Homo sapiens: one gene and its partner. The protein of the gene in region 2 interacts with the protein of the main gene of each other region in a pairwise test. Each region holds a gene or a part of one and is shown on either strand. Other genes may lie near its edges.

Region 1 (7,112 bases), on a different chromosome or scaffold from region 2:
CACTGTAACCTCTGTTGCCTGGGTTCAAGTGATTCTCCTGCCTCAGCCTCCTGAGTAGCTGGGATTACAGGCATGTGCCACCACGCCTGGCTAATTTTTGTATTTTTAGTAGAGATGGCGTTTCACTATGTTGGCCAGGCTGGTCTCAAACTCCTGACCTCAAGTGATCCACCCACCTTGGCCTCCCAAAGTGCTGGGATTACAGGCGTGAGCCACCACGCCTGGCCTCAGAATCAATTACAGGCGCAGTGGCTCACGACTCAGGCCTGTAATCCCAGCACTTTGGGAGTCCAAGGCAGGCAGATCATTTGAGGCCAGGAGTCTGAGATGAACCTGGTAACACGGCAAAACCCCATCTCTTCTAAAAATCAAAAAACAGCCAGCATGGTGGCTCATGCATGTAATCCCAGCTATGTGGGAGGCTCAGGTGGGAGAATCGCTTGAACCTGGGAGGTAGAGGTTGCAATGAGCCAAAATCACGCCACTGCACTCCAACCTGGTCGACAGTCTTTAAAAAAAAAAAAAAAGCAGCCGCACGCGATGGCTCATGCCTGTAATGCTAGCACTATGGGAGGCCGAGATGGGCGGATCACAAGGTCAGGAGATCGAGACGATCCTGGCTAACACAGTGAAACCCTGTCTCTACTAAAAATACAAAAAATTAGCCAGGCGTGTTTGCGGGCGCCTGTAGTCCACAGGACTGGCTGAGGCAGGACAATGGCGTGAACCCGGAAGGCAGAGCTTGCAGTGACCTGAGATTGCCCCACTGCACTCCAGCCTGGGGGACAGAGTGAGACTCCACCTCAAAAAAAAAAACACAAAAAAACACAAGCAGCAACTCAAATATCCATAAACGGATGAATGAATATATAATGACATTTCATGGCAGACTATACTTCTCAGCAATATACAACAAATTAACTCATGTCTACATTGATATCAAAATAAGCATGATGCAGGAGAGCACCCAGGGATTATAAGAGGAAACACTTTATTACATCAGTCAGAAAATTCTAGAAAATGGAAAGTATTATACAGCAGAGTAAATCAATGGTTGTCTGCATAGAGAAAAACTTTATAAAGGCTCCAGGTGAATACAAAGGTGATAGATTAGATAAATTCATTATTGTGACTCTGATGATGGTTTCATGGGATTATAAGAAAATTCAAGCCAGGAGCAGTGGCTCACGCCTGCAATCCCAACACTTTGAGAGGCCAAGGCGGGCAGATCACGAGGTCAGGAGATTGAGAACTTCCTGGCTAACAGGGTGAAACCCCATCTCTACTAAAAATACAAAAAAGGTAGGAGTGGTGGTGGTTGCCTGTAGTCCCAGCTATTAGGGAGGCTGAGGCAGGAGAATGGCATGAACCCAGGAGGCAGGGCTTGCAGTGAGCCGAGATTATGCCACTGTACTCCAGCCTGGGTGACAGAGCGAGGCTGTCTCAAAAAAAAGAAAAAGAAAATTCAAGACTTATCCTACAGCTCAAATATGCATACTTTATTGGATGTCATTTATATATTTTATTTTTGAAACAGGGTCTCACTCTGTGGTCCAGACTGGACTGCAGTGTTGCAATCTCGGCTCACTGCAACCTCTGCCTCCCAGGCTCAAGCAAATCCTCCCATGTAGCAATCCTCCCACATGACAGCTCTCCTGTGAGTTATGCAGCCAGACTTCTGGATAAATATCCTGTATTTGTCACACTAGTAAGGCCTTCATTCAGTGTTAACTATAATCCTGAAGGAATACAGAGGTGTGGCTACAAAACTGCCCAAATTTATTTTACTTGTAAGGACTCTTCTCTAGTGTGAACTCTCCAATATCCAAGGAGAGCAGACCTTTGGGTAAACATTTTCCACATTTGCTGCAATCACAGGATCTTACTCAGGTGTGTATTCTCCAATATTTAATGAGACTGGACTCACTGCACTCATAAGCCCTTTCTTTTGTGAACTCTCTGATGATGACGAAGTGAAGAGATTTGCCTAAATTTTTTTTCACATTCACTGCACCCGTAAGGCTTTTCTCCAGTGTGAACTCTCCTGTGTTTAGTGAGACTGGAGCTTTCGGCAAAAGATTTCCCACATTCACTGCACTCATAAGGCTTCTGACCAGTGTGAACTCTCTTATGAACACGGAATGTAGAGCTGTGGGTAAATGACTTCCCACAATCACTGCATTCATATGGCCTTTCTCCAGTGTGAACTCTCTGGTGTGCAATGAGGTGGTACTTGTGCCTAAAAAATTTCTGACAAACCTCACACTCATATGGCTTCTCTCCAGTGTGAATTCTCTGGTGTACAAGGAGGTGGGACTTACTGTTAAATAATTTCCCACATATCCCACACGTATAAGGTTTTTCTCTAGTGTGAACTCCTTGATGATTACTGAAGCTGTCATATTTGCTAGAGGATTTCCCACATTCACACCACACAGAAGGTTCTTCTGTAGGGAGCAGTCTCTCGTGCTGACTGAGTATATCTTTGGTGCTAAAATGTTTCATGCATCCTCCACAGCTGTAATGGCTTTTTCCCCCATGAAACAGAGACACACACTCAGTTTTGCTGTTTGACTTCCCAGTGTGAGTGGCCTCTTGCTGGAGTAATCCTGACCTGAGCAAAAAGTCTTTCCCACTCTCACTGAAGACAGATGACTCCCCTGACACATGCAACTTACACCTCTTCGCAAACAACGCCTCCTCAACACTCCCTCTGTAGGGTTTCTCTCCAATGTGCTCATTCTGGTGCTGATGAAAGTTTCCACTGTCATACAATTTATTCCCCCAGGCCTCACACCTGTGCAGTTTCTGCTTGTGATGTGTTCCCTGATGATCTGCCACATGCAAAATGTCTCCCAAGATCGGGCCACACATCTCACAGGGGTGGGCCTTCTTGGGAGACACACCTGCCATAGGAGTCCTGACCTGAGTCTCTCTTTGTATATAAATACTCTGCTTAGAAGGTGCCGCCTCATCTTCCACTCCACACCAACAACCTGAAAGCAAGAAAATGCTGGTGAAGTGCATGTTAACTCTGGTGGGAAGGCACAGACCACCCACAAGTGTATCTGAAAAACTGAGGAATTACTCCAAGGAAGTACTTGGAGGAACAGGATGTTGGCTTCAGGTGGAAGATGGTGCTATGTATTATTACTGGACTATAATGGTCACAGAATGTAGGAGGCCTCATAACATAAAGGACACAACCATGTATGTAACACAGGGAGTAGAGGCAGGGTCTACAATCCCTGCATCTGCAAACCACTCATCTGCAGAATTTATGTCCTCATGACATGCGAGTGCTGTAGAGAGGGATTTGTCCAGGCCAAGGAAAACACAAGCACAACACAGCAGCTTCTGCTTGAGGACAGTTTAACAAAGTGTACACATTTGCTAACACAAAACCTGTATGCTAATACTGGAAACCACTGCAGATGAAGATGTGAATAAAATTAAGATGTGAGGTCCAGAGATGTGAAGATTATTCAGGGGAATAAATATCAGACTACAAGCTCATGTACAAATCAGTTAAAGGATTTAAAAAAAAAAAAAGTACAACTGACAAGGAGTACAACTGACAATTCTGAGGTTCTTAACAATGGGGAAGAGGCCAGTACCAGTGGCTCACAGCTGTAAACCCAATGTAGGAAGATCACCTGAGCCCAGAAATCCAAGACCAGCCTGGGAAACATGGTGAGACCCTGTCTCTACAGAAATTATTTTTAAAATGGCCAAGCATGGTGACTCATGCCTACAATCCCAGCACTTTGGGAGGCTAAGGCAAAGGGATCACTCAGGCCCAGGAGATCAAGACCAGCCTGAGCAACACAGCAAAACCTCTCTACAAACATTAGCCAGGTGTGATGGTGTGCACCTGCAGTCCTAGCTACTCAGGAGACTGAGGCTGGAGGATCACTTGAGCCCAGGAGGTTGAGGCTGTGTGAACTATATTCACACCACTGCACTCCAGGTAACAAAAATGACAGTGTGAGAACCTGTCTCAAAAAAGAAAAGAGAAGAGGAGAGGAGAGGGGAGGGAAAGGGAGAAGAGGGAAGAGGAAAGAGAAGAGAGAAGAAAAGGGCCAGGTGTCGTGGGTCATGCCTGTAATCCCAGCACTTTGGGAGGCAGAGCTGGGCGGATCACCTGACGTCAGGAGTTTGAGACCAGCCTGACCAACATGGAGAAACACTGTCTCTACTAAAAATACAAAATATTAGCCTTTGGGGAAAAGAAAGAGAGATCAGACTGTTACTGTGTCGATGTAGAAAGAAGCAGACATAAGAGACTCCATTTTGTTCAGTACTAAGAAAAATTATTCTGCCTTGAGATGCTGTTAATCTGTAACCCTACTCCCAACCCTGTGCTCCAGAAACATGTGCTGTGTCAACTCAAGGTTAAATGGATTTTGGGCTATGCAGGACGTGCTTTGTTAAACAAGTGCTTCAAGGCAGCATGCTTGTTAAAAGTCATCACTACTCCCTACTCTCAAGGACCCAGGGACACAAAACACTGCCTAGGAAAGCCAGGTATTGCCCAAGGTTTCTCCCCATGTGATAGCCTGAGATATGGCCTCATGGGAAGGGAAAGACCTGACAGCCCGACGCCAGTAAAGGGGCTGTGCTGAGGATTAGTAAAAGAGGAAGGCCTCTTTGCAGTTGAGATAAGAGGAGGGCATCTGTCTCCCGCTCATCCCTGGGCAATGGAATGTCTGGGTGTTAAAACCCAATTGTATATTCCATATACTGAGATAGGAGAAAACCGCCTTAGGGCTGGAGGTGAGACATGCTGGAGGCAATACTGCTCTTTAAGGCATTGAGATGTTTATGTATATGCACATCAAAAGCACAGCACTTTTTTCTTTACCTTGTTTATGATGCAGAGACATTTGTTCACATGTTTTCCTGCTGAACCTCTCCCCACTATTACCCTATTGACCTGCCACATGGTAGAGATAATGATCAGTAAATACTGAAGGAACTCGGAGACTGGTGGCGGCAGGGGGAAGGCAGGGTTCCTCCGTATGCTGAGCGCCAGTCCCCTGGGCCCACTTTTCTTTTTTTTTTTTATTTTTTATTCTTTATTGAGACGGAGTCTCGCTCTGTTGCTCAGGCTGGAGTGCGGTGGCACAATCGCGGCTCACTGCAAGCTCCGCCTGCCGGGTTCACGCCATTCTCCTGCCTCAGCCTCTCCGAGTAGCTGGGACTACAGGCGCCCGCCACCACGCCTGGCTAATTTTTTTGTATTTTTAGTAGAGACAGGGTTTCACCGTGGTCTCAATCTCCTGACCTCGTGATCCGCCTGCCTCGGCCTCCCAAAGTTCTGGGATTACAAGCATGAGCCACCGCACCCAGCCCACTTTTCTTTCTCTATATTTTGGATCTGTGTCTCTTTCTTTTCTCAAGTCTCTCATTCCACCTGACGAGAAACACCCACAGGTGTGGAGAGGCAGGCCACCCTTCATTAGCCGGGCATGGTGGCACATGCCTGTAATCCCAGCTACTCAGGAGGCTGAGGGCAGAATTGCTTGGGCCTGGGAGACAGAGGTTGCGGTGAGCCAGATCGCACCATTGCGCTCCAGCCTGGACAACAAGAGCGAAACTCCATCTCAAAAAAAAAAAAAAAAAAAAAAACAATGGAGAAGGCCAGGTGCAGTGGATCATGCCTGTAATCCCAGCACTGTGGGAGGCAAAGGCAGGCGGATCATGAAGTCAGGAGTTTGAGACCAGCCTGGCCAATATGGTGAAACCCCATCTCTACTAAAAATACAAAACATAGCCAGGCGTGGTGGTGCACGCCTGTAGTCCCAGCTACTTGGGAGGCTGAGGCAGAAGAATTGCTTGAACCTGGGAGGTGGAGGTTGCAGTGAGCCAAGATCGCACCACTACACTCCAGCCTGGGCAACAAAGTGAGACTCTGTCTCAAAAAAAAAAAAAAAAAAAAAAATTAGCTGGGCATAATGGCATGCACCTGTATTCCCAGCTTCTCAGGAGGCTGAAGCAGGAGAAGTGCTTCAGCCCAGGAGGCAGAGGTTGCAGTGAGCAGAGATCAAGCTACTGCACTCCAGCCTGGGCAACAGAACAAGACCCTTTCTCAAAAAACAAACAAACAAAACCAAAAACAAGAATGAAGGAGAAAAGACGATACAGAAATCATGTGTGCTTACTTGTCTGGCCCCAAAAATACTACTGAAATAGAAGAGGTTTCTGTCATGATTTGAATAAAACTCTTGACATCATGCACCACTGTCCTAGGATGCTATTTTTCAGGGACTCAGAACCCATAATGCTGAGGCCAGATTCATTTGCATCTTCTGACCACAGAAGATGATCCCACCACCAAGATAACCAAGTACATGAGACATACATGATGTAAGAACAAAGGGAAAGACAGAACAAGGAAACAGCCAACACTGGCTTAGAACAACTCAGCACATGACAGCAGACAGGAAACAATATTACAAAAAGAATTTCTGTTTTTTGAGACGGAGTCTTGCTCTGTTGCTCAGGCTGGAGCGCAGTGGCACAATCTCAGCTCACTGCAACCCCTGCCTCCTGGGTTCAAGCTATCCTCCCACCTTAGCCTCCCAAGTAGCCAGGATTAAAAGCGTGTGCCACCACACCTGGCTAATTTTTATATTTTCAGTAGAGATGGGGTTTCACCATGTCGGCCAGGCTGTTCTCGAACTCCTGGCCTCAAGTAATCCACCTACCTTGGCCTCCCTGAGTGCAGAAATTATAGGCATGAGCCACTGCACCAGACCTATGAAGAGAATTTCTAAGGACGGTATTACAAGAACAGTCTATAGTCTATGTAGGCAGTGACAATGTCAATGAAGACAATTCCTGGCACAGGGAGGCATGAAGAAATAACAGGTAGAGGAATGAATTAGATCCCGAACCTGAAATCTGGATGAAATCACACAAACATCCACAGGACAAACAAGGTAGCCTGCATTAAGTTGCCTGTAAGACTTCTGACTCTGAATTCTTCCCTGGGAGCTCAATAGCAGGTGTTGGGGCTGCTCCAAGAATGGAGAGGGCAGTATGCATACCTCAGTCCTACCAACCAAGAACTGAAGTAGGAAGCTGTGTCCATGCTCCTGACATGAGAA
Region 2 (8,780 bases):
CACAAAAAATATATTTCTTACTCTGAGCCACAGTTGAAAGTTTTGAGAAACATGCCTTGGGGTTTCTGAGGAAAACCTAGTGGTCTGGAAAATGTAATTGCTCATAATAAAAATATGCTCAAATAAAAATATGAAGAATTATCTGTCAGTTTTGTATTTTCTCTCTTGGGGTACCTCTGTCACTGTAAGTTGGGGAGTTGCATCCCACCCAGCCATCGAACACGCTGTTGCCCATGAGGCATTTGAGCAGCATCTGGGGACTACAGGGCCAGCCCTGTCACTTCAAGAACCCACTGGGTCCAAAGCCTCAGCAAAAAATTTAACATATACATACTCTTCTCTCCATCCCCACCCCACCCTGGCTAGATTCCCTCATTAGATCATATGAACTTTTAAAAGAAGATGAAAAACAACATGAGCATTCTAAATGCTTCAGACTATATGTTCCAAATACACTCATTAACAGACAGAGAACTAAAGCCCAAAGCAACCAGCAACAGGTTCTGAATCATAGAACAGGGGACCCAAAACAAAAACAAGTCATCAAGTTGCCAACCCTAGGATTTGTTTTATTATCTAATTAATGTGCAATGTGGGAGAATTGGAAAATATAGATTACAAAAAGATTAAAAGTACATACAGTACAAAAATTAGATCATAACATGAGCATTTTTGTAACTTGCTATTTTTGTTAATATGTTTGCATATTTTGAGTATCTTTCCCACCAATAAATATACTTCTACCTCAGTGTTTTCCGTGTTGTTTAGTCTTTCGTGGTACGTAATTTATTTCCCTATTGCTTAATATTTGTTTCCAGCTAATGAAAAAAAGATTTCTTAATCACAATTTTTTATGAATTTATTTGGGGATTAAGATATTTTCATTTTAATTACAATTTATTCTTAGTTGTCCACTGAGGCATGAATACCCTAAATGATTTCCTGAATGTGCTCAATAAATCTTTCTTCAATAAATCTCCTGTGCCACTGCCCTTTAAGGCAGTATTAAGTATTTAAAGTCAATGTTCCTTCGTCACATACTTCAGTTTTACAAACAAATTTATAAATGGAGTCGGGGAGGTGGTTCTTTCCTTTCCTATCAATCAGTTTATAAATTCAAGAATATGAATTTCCTTGGTAGTAGTAGTGGCAAGGCAAGCACGTGAGCAGTGTAGGAGTTCGCACCACTGTGGCACATACAAGCAGTGTTTCCGAAAAGAAGATGGGGCTGTCATCAGATAGTACATGTATTAAGGTTTCATTTTTAAAAGTAAAAGGAATTCTCCACAATTAATTAGCTAATTGGAAAATGTTTATTAAGAATCTATTCTGTTAGATGCTTAATAGACAGACACATTGCTAGGCAGTGGAGATAAGTACTGTGTGGGATAAAACAGTCTAATAGGGGAAACTGACATTGATCAGTAATCATCCTATTGAATATGTAATGATGAAGGTAAGTGCCCAGAGCAGAAGGGCATGGTGCTGTGAGCACTCCGACCTGGACTGGAGTCAGCAGTGACTTCCCCAAGGAAATGAGACTTGAGCCTTAGCTCTGATAGACAAATAGGCACTAGTCAGGTGGGGAGGAATGTTCAAACTTCCCCAAAACAGAGGGAGTATAGCAAATAAAGACTGAAATAAGGCCATTATGGTTGGGACACAGAGTAAAGAAGGGAGGCCAGACCATGCAGGGCCTCACAGGCCACAGTAAAGAGACTGATTGTGGGGACTTCCTCCTGAAAGCTGAAGGAAGCACTGAAAGTTTTAATCAGGGGATAACTCGACACCTGAATGTCCCAGGGACATCTTTAATTCAACATATACAAAATCCAATTTAATTATCCCTCTTATTTCCAATTTCTGTAAGTGGCACTACCATTCTTCTAGTTAGTCCATTTAAAACTGCCCTCTTTCGCCAGGCACGGTGGCTCACGCCTGTAATCCCAGCACTTTAGGAGGCCGAGGTGGGCGGATCATGAGGTCAGGAGATCGAGACCATCCTGGCTAACACGGTGAAACCCCGTCTCTACTAAAAATACAAAAAATTAGCCGGGCATGGTGGCATGTGCCTGTAGTCCCAGCTACTTAGGAGGCTGAGGCAGGTGAATCACTTGAACTCAGGAGGCAGAGGTTGCAGTGAGCCAAGATCGTGCCACTGCACTCCAGCCTGGGCGACAGAGCGAGACTCTGTCTCAAAAAAAAAAAACCAAAAAAACAAAAAACTGCCCTCTTTCCCTTTATCCTTCATCCAATCAATTATCAATTTATTCCTAGATTTCCCTAATTCTATTTCCATGGTAACAGATACACTCAGTCAGTATTATTCCTGCTATCATCATTTCCATTTAAACCCTCTACCTCTTGTCTGGACTATGATATTAACAGTAACCTTCGAACTGGCCTTACTTCTCCTCCTACCCGCTGTCACCTTTTCCCCCAAACAAACTGAGCATAACCGCCTGTGCATCCTTCAAGGTCCACTTTGACCACCAGTAGTGTGGTGGGTCTCGCCTTCCTTTAGGTACTCTCAGCACTTTGACTTCTTTGGTTTCTAATATTAAGTAGCTTGAGTGGTGAGACTGTTCTCCTGTCTTCTGTTTCCTATGATGAGCAGTTAGTGCCTTGCACATAATACTGTTCAATAAGCCTTGATTAGAATGGATTGAGAGCAAGGCTAAAATGGACTCTGCTCCACTTTACTTAGAAAAAGAATTCCCCAGCTGACTTCCACTAAGTCTCCTCAGGCTAGGAAATAGCAGACCAGCTTTGCAATGTGCCCTGTCATGCCCTCACTGTCCAATGCTGTGCTCTGGTACCACAGAGAAGAGCAGGTCTGATGTTACTTTTTAACCTGTAAAGGATATGGACCTTTCTTGAACAGTTCAGAAGAATTAAAGCAGAAAATGTGGGAGTGACAGCGCAGCCTTAGAAGTGTGAGAGGTACCTTAGAGCTTTGTAATAGGCCAGTGTCTGTAATAGATAAGCAGACCCACAGAGAGGCACAGCTACTAATGAGAGGGGGCAAAGGAGTGTTTGTGTGACCTTGACCACATGGATACGGGTGGCAGAGTTTCCTTACTGACTAATTCAGGAGTCCTCTAAAACTAGGAGTTCATTGACTTAAAAAGTAGGCATTTGATGAGGATTAGCCCCAGATGGATTGTTCATGGCACCTACTGAAGGAGCTTTTCTTGTCTCAAAAGGCCTGAACTGTGTTGCTGCCAGCTTGCTTTAAGCCTTGAGTCTTCTTGCAGGGTAGAGGAGAAATTTGGATTCTGAAGTCTCCAACCATTTCGAAGTAGCAGAGGTGTAGGACCCCTGGACTAAATTGGTTTTAGGACAGGAAGGGAGACAGAGATATCATTTCATGCACGTAGAGTGCTTTCCAGTCTACGAAGCACCATTATGCCCATTTTCTTACATTATCCTTGTAACATCCCTGTGAAGTGGGCTGGGGAAATAGCCCTCATTCCATAGATGGGAAAACCAAAGTTGCAAGGCCTGTCAGAAATCGAACCAAAGTCATCCAGGCAAGGTGGTAGGCCTGTGATCCCAGCTACTTAGGAGGCTGAACCAAGGGAATCACTAAAGCCCAGGAGTTCAAGAAGAGCCTGGGCAACATAGTAAGACCTCATCTCTAATAAATAAATTAAATAAATAAATAAATAAAATTTAGGAAAGAAGTAGAACCAACATCTTCTGATCCTTAACATGTGCTGTCTCCACCCCCACCATGTTCTAGAAGAGGGAGAAACTGTTTAATAGCCCTTGCCACTTAGGTTGAAACTGATTAGCCTGACATCCTCAGCCATTGGCTGAACCTGTGCCCCTCTGCTTTTTGTCCACAGAGCCATGGGGGTGTTGATGTCCAAGCGGCAGACAGTGGAGCAGGTGCAGAAGGTGAGTCTGGCTGTGTCTGCTTTCAAGGATGGGCTGCGGGACAGGCCTTCCATCCGACGCACAGGTGAGCTGCCAGGGTCCCGCCGTGGCACTGTAGAGGGCTCCGTCCAGGAGGTACAGGAGGAGAAGGAAGCAGAAGCAGGAACCTCGGTGGTCCAGGAAGAGAGTAGTGCCGGCCGCGCAGCCTGGGAGCGGCTCCGAGATGGGCGCGGCGTGGAGCCTGAGGAGTTTGACAGGACAAGTCGATTCACACCCCCTGCGTTCATCCGCCCCACCCGGAAGCTGGATGATGACAAACCTCCAGAAATCTGCCTGGAGCCCAGAGAGCCTGTGAGTATCCAGTTAGGACAGGATCCTCAAGTCTTAGTGCATCAGGGAGCAGGACAGGGAAGATGGATGTGGGTAAGGTGATCCTCAAAACCGGAAAAATGGAGCTGAGTCCAAAAAAATCTTTGAATTTCTTCTGTAAGAATAAAATGTTTGTTATATCCTGGATTCATCTTAGTGAAAGGCTTGGGGCAATGGATGATAAAGAATGATGCTGTGGCAGGTCTTCTGTCGAACCTCCCCCTCTTCCCCGCTGCCATGGGTTTTCAACCATGGATAGTACTACACCCTGCGGGAGGCAATTGGAAATTTGGGAGGGAGGAGTTTGGGGAGGTCACAACACCAGGTGGCTACTGGTGTTTGGTACCAAGAAAAGCAGGGATGATAAATGTCCTGCAATGCCTGGAACAATCTCTCACAACAGATTGTTCTTTCTAAAAGTGCTAGTAGCTCCCTGTTCATAAACATGGTCACAAAGACATGAGCAGCTGGAAGGACCTCCTGGTTCTTGTCGTCCAGAAAGAAAACCTCAACAATGGCTTCAGTTGGGGCTGTTCCTCTAGGCTAATCTGGGAAGACTCAGCCCCATGCAGGTAGCTCTGTGCTTAGTGGCCTTGGAATCTTGCTGCCTACATTTACACATCCCTGTTTCCTCCTGCCATCTTTCTGCAGGTTGTCAACGATGAGATGTGTGATGTTTGTGAGGTCTGGACAGCTGAGAGCCTCTTCCCGTGCAGGGTCTGCACCAGGGTTTTCCATGATGGCTGCCTGCGCCGCATGGGCTACATCCAAGGAGACAGTGCAGCGGAGGTGACGGAGATGGCCCACACAGAAACAGGCTGGAGCTGCCACTACTGTGTAAGTCTGGACTGCAGGGACAGCAGAGGACTTGGCACTTTTCCTGGAGGCCCGGTCTTAGAACACTTGATTTTAGGCAGTGACCTAAAGAATTTTCCAATGGGCTGGGCGCGGTGGCTCATGCCTGTAATCCCAGCACTTTGGGAGGCCAGTGCCGGAAGATCACGAGGTCAAGAGATTGAGACCATCCTGGCCAACATGGTGAAACCCCATCTCTACTAAAAATACAAAAATTAGCTGGGCGTGGTGGCACGCGCCTGTAGTCCCAGCTACTCGGGAGGCTGAGGTAGGAGAATCACTTAAACCCAGGAGGCGGAGGTTGCAGCGAGCCGAAATCGCGCCACTGCACTCCAGCCTGGCGACAGAGCGAGACTCTGTCTCGAAAAAAAAAAAAAAAAAAAGATTTTTCCAATGGTACATACAAGAGACCTAGAGCTAGGATGGGGTTTCTCAACCTCAGTACATTTTAGGCTGGCTAGTTACTTGTTTGAGGGGCCAAGTGCATTGTAGGATGTTTAGCGGCACCCTGGCCTTAATCCCCTAGATGCCGGTAGCATACATCTCAATGTGAAGGTAGCAAAATCACCCCCGGTAGAGAACCTCTGAGCTAGGAGATTGACTGGGGCCTAATTACTCAAAAGTAATTCTGCTTGGAGCAGTTCTTTCTCTAATAGTCTATAGTTGTCATTCATTGTATCCATATGAAAACTAACCTGAGATCCTAACCAGCTTGCTTCCAGTAGGGGTAGATTCTATCACAGGAAAACTTCCTAGGCCTGAGATCCTCACTCAGCCTGCCACCTGACTCATAAGCATTTGCTCTTCCTCTTTGAAGTGGTTATTATGTGAATTAAATGACAAAGCTCTATTGATTCAGAACTTCGCAAATTATATATAAATGCCTTCTAACTTTTAATGAAGGACAGAGTCTAAGGTTTCCATTGAAAGCCAGATTTATATCCATTTCTCACTACACCTGAATAGAGTTCAAGTCTTGCCTTATTGATCTGTTGTCCTGCAGATATCGTCATTGTTTATTGATTTCAGAGTGAGGAGCACCTGCTGATCCCCCCTTCTTCCTGCTGCTTAGACGAAAGCAGAGATGTGCCACTTTCTAACAAATAACTCTTCCTCTATGGCTTGTTATGGAACAGCTATTTTCAGCCACTGAAACACCTGTCCCCATGGAGTACACTGCAGCAGACCCTGCTGTACCGGCGACCTTCTCTAGTGCCTGTCACCCCTTCCAAATGCCATCCTTTCATCTCGGCCACTCTGCTTTGCGGTGTGCTGCTGCTATAGGACTGGGGTGAAGGGGTCACCTCCCTAACCCCCAGGAACACACTGCTCCCTCCCCAGCTTCCTGACACAGTCCTACCATCATTGCCACCATGCTCCACTGGGCTTTTTACAGAGCCTCCTTCCAAGTACCTCTCCTTTCTTTCCTTCCCTTCACAGCCAACAAATCTTCTTCTTCTTTTTTTTCTTTTTATGAGACAGGGTCTCACTGTGTCACCTGGCTGAAGTGCAGTGGTGCGATCGTAGCACTGCAGCCTTGAACTCCTAGACCTAAGCAATCCTCCTGCCTCAGCTTCCTCAGTAGCTGGGACTACAGGCACAAGCCATTGCACCTGGCCCCACAGCCAAACTTCTTAAAAGAATTTCACCATCTCCTATGGTTTTTCAACCACCTATCATATAATCTGACATCTGCATCCATCATTCTGCAGAACTGTTGCTTCCTAAGGTCACCAGTCACCTCCTAATTGTCAAGTCCACTGACCTTTTCTGAGGCATCTTCTTACTTGATCTCTCTGAAGTATTTATTACTTCTTTATTCCTCTCTCTTTTCTTTAGGATTTAAGTATTTTTATGAGAATTATTGCATAAGATATGGAAATGAGAGAAAATAGAAAGTCAATAAAATCCCACCTCAGTGGTGTAACCACCGTTAACATTACCTCCCACATTCTGCAGCTGTCTTTGCTTGGTATCCAGTACCTTCTTCTCTACTGATGCTCTTCCAGCCTTAGTCTCTGACCATTCTTTCTCAATGCCCTTTGTTAGTTTCTTGTCTCAGTCCTGTTTCTCAGGGTTCTGTTGTTTAATACTCTTCTTTTCTCACTGCGCCCTCTTTGGTGACTTCATCTACAGCCACCATCTAAACACTAATGACTCCTATTTCTGTGTGTCCAGACCTAAATTTCCTGTCTCTTGCACTTATCCACCTTGATATCTCACAAGTACTTCACACTCATCATGCCCCAAAATGAACTCATCTTTGCCCCCAAACCTGCTCTTCCTCCACTCCTTATCTCTGTGAATAGTAATACCATGCCCCAGTTACCAATTCCAGTTCAATCTCTCCCTCATGCCTCACATCCAGTGAGTCATCAGGTCCTGATGATGCTGCCTCTAATATCTCTCTTCCCTTCTTCATTCTCATGTCTCAGTTTAGCTGCTCATCATTTCTTGCCTGGACTGTTGCGGCAGCCCCCAACTGCTCTCCACACCTCCAGACTCTGCCGCTCTAATCCATCTTCCACACAGCAGCCAGAGATCTGACCACGGCACTCCCCACTTGAAAACCCTTTGGTGGCTCCCTTTTGCCCTCAGAATAAAGGCCTAATTTGAGGGGCTCGATAAAGGGTATTGGAGGTACTTCATAGTAGGCCCCCTCCTTCCCTCACACACACACTCACATGTACTCCAAACCTCAGCCACACTGAACATCTCACAGTGTTACACACCACTGTGGCGCCCAGTGTTTACTAGGTGCTCAGTAGGTGTTTATTGAAAGTATGGTTTGAAAGAAAAATACAACTATTATATATTAGTTTTTAAAAAGTGTTATGGAAGAAAAAGAATGGTTTGAGTTCTTTATGAAATCCACGTATGAATACTCATGAAATATCTGCTCTTGTACTTTGCGGGTATCTCAGAGGAAGAAAATGACCTTGTACTAGAAAGGATCTTTGATAGTTTAAAGACTGTATGGTAACGTCAACACAATAAGATATTGGTGCTCCTTTGGAATTAAAACTTCTGTGGCACTACAAAAAAACTCATTTGGCTTTAGGAGCCTTGTAATAATGGCATCTTTTAAAACCATTCTGGGGTTATTTAAAGTGATACAACCCACTTGGAGCAGAGCTAGGATTAAACTTTTTTTTTTTTTAACTAAAATACATTTTTAGCACAGCCTAACACAGAAGCCAAGTAGATAAAAGGGATGGAGATGGAGCCGCTCTGCTTGATGGAGATAGGGATTCACAACCTGCCTACTCACTAGCCCCCTTATTCCCTGCAGCAGCTTCCTAAGGCACTTCCAAGAAATCCCTAGGTTAGCTCAGAGGAGAAAACCACTGTTTTAGTAAAGGGACTCAGTGCTGGAGTCAGGATATCTGGGTTCTTGGGGAAGATTCTGCCCCAGAGTAAAGACAACTCTGGCCAAGTCCTTTCTCCTCTCTGGGGCCTCAATCTCATTGATTGTGAATAGGAGGCTGGGATTAGATGATCTTGGAACTGCTTTCCAGTTGAAATTCTATTTCTAGCCCCCTTGACCCTGGCCTTTCTTACTGGCCTGTATGGCCACCGACTCAGCTCTTCCTTATTTTCAGGACAACATCAACTTGCTGCTTACTGAGGAGGAAATGTATAGCCTCACGGAGACCTTTCAGCGGTGTAAAGTC

What was found.
Region 1: the proteins of PHF24 (region 2) and ZNF552 interact in binary tests that used the Homo sapiens proteins (3 or more experiments, as listed by UniProt).

Annotation. Positions count from the first base shown.
Region 1 is NC_000019.10:57,806,108-57,813,219, forward strand, and holds the end of ZNF552 (zinc finger protein 552), read right to left. Parts: intron 2,997-7,112; coding exon 1,933-2,996; 3' UTR 975-1,932; downstream 1-974. UniProt on the Homo sapiens protein: May be involved in transcriptional regulation.
Region 2 is NC_000009.12:34,967,444-34,976,223, forward strand, and holds part of PHF24 (PHD finger protein 24), read left to right. Parts: intron 1-3,851; coding exon of another isoform or gene 3,852-3,855; coding exon 3,856-4,233; intron 4,234-4,902; coding exon 4,903-5,088; intron 5,089-8,708; coding exon 8,709-8,780.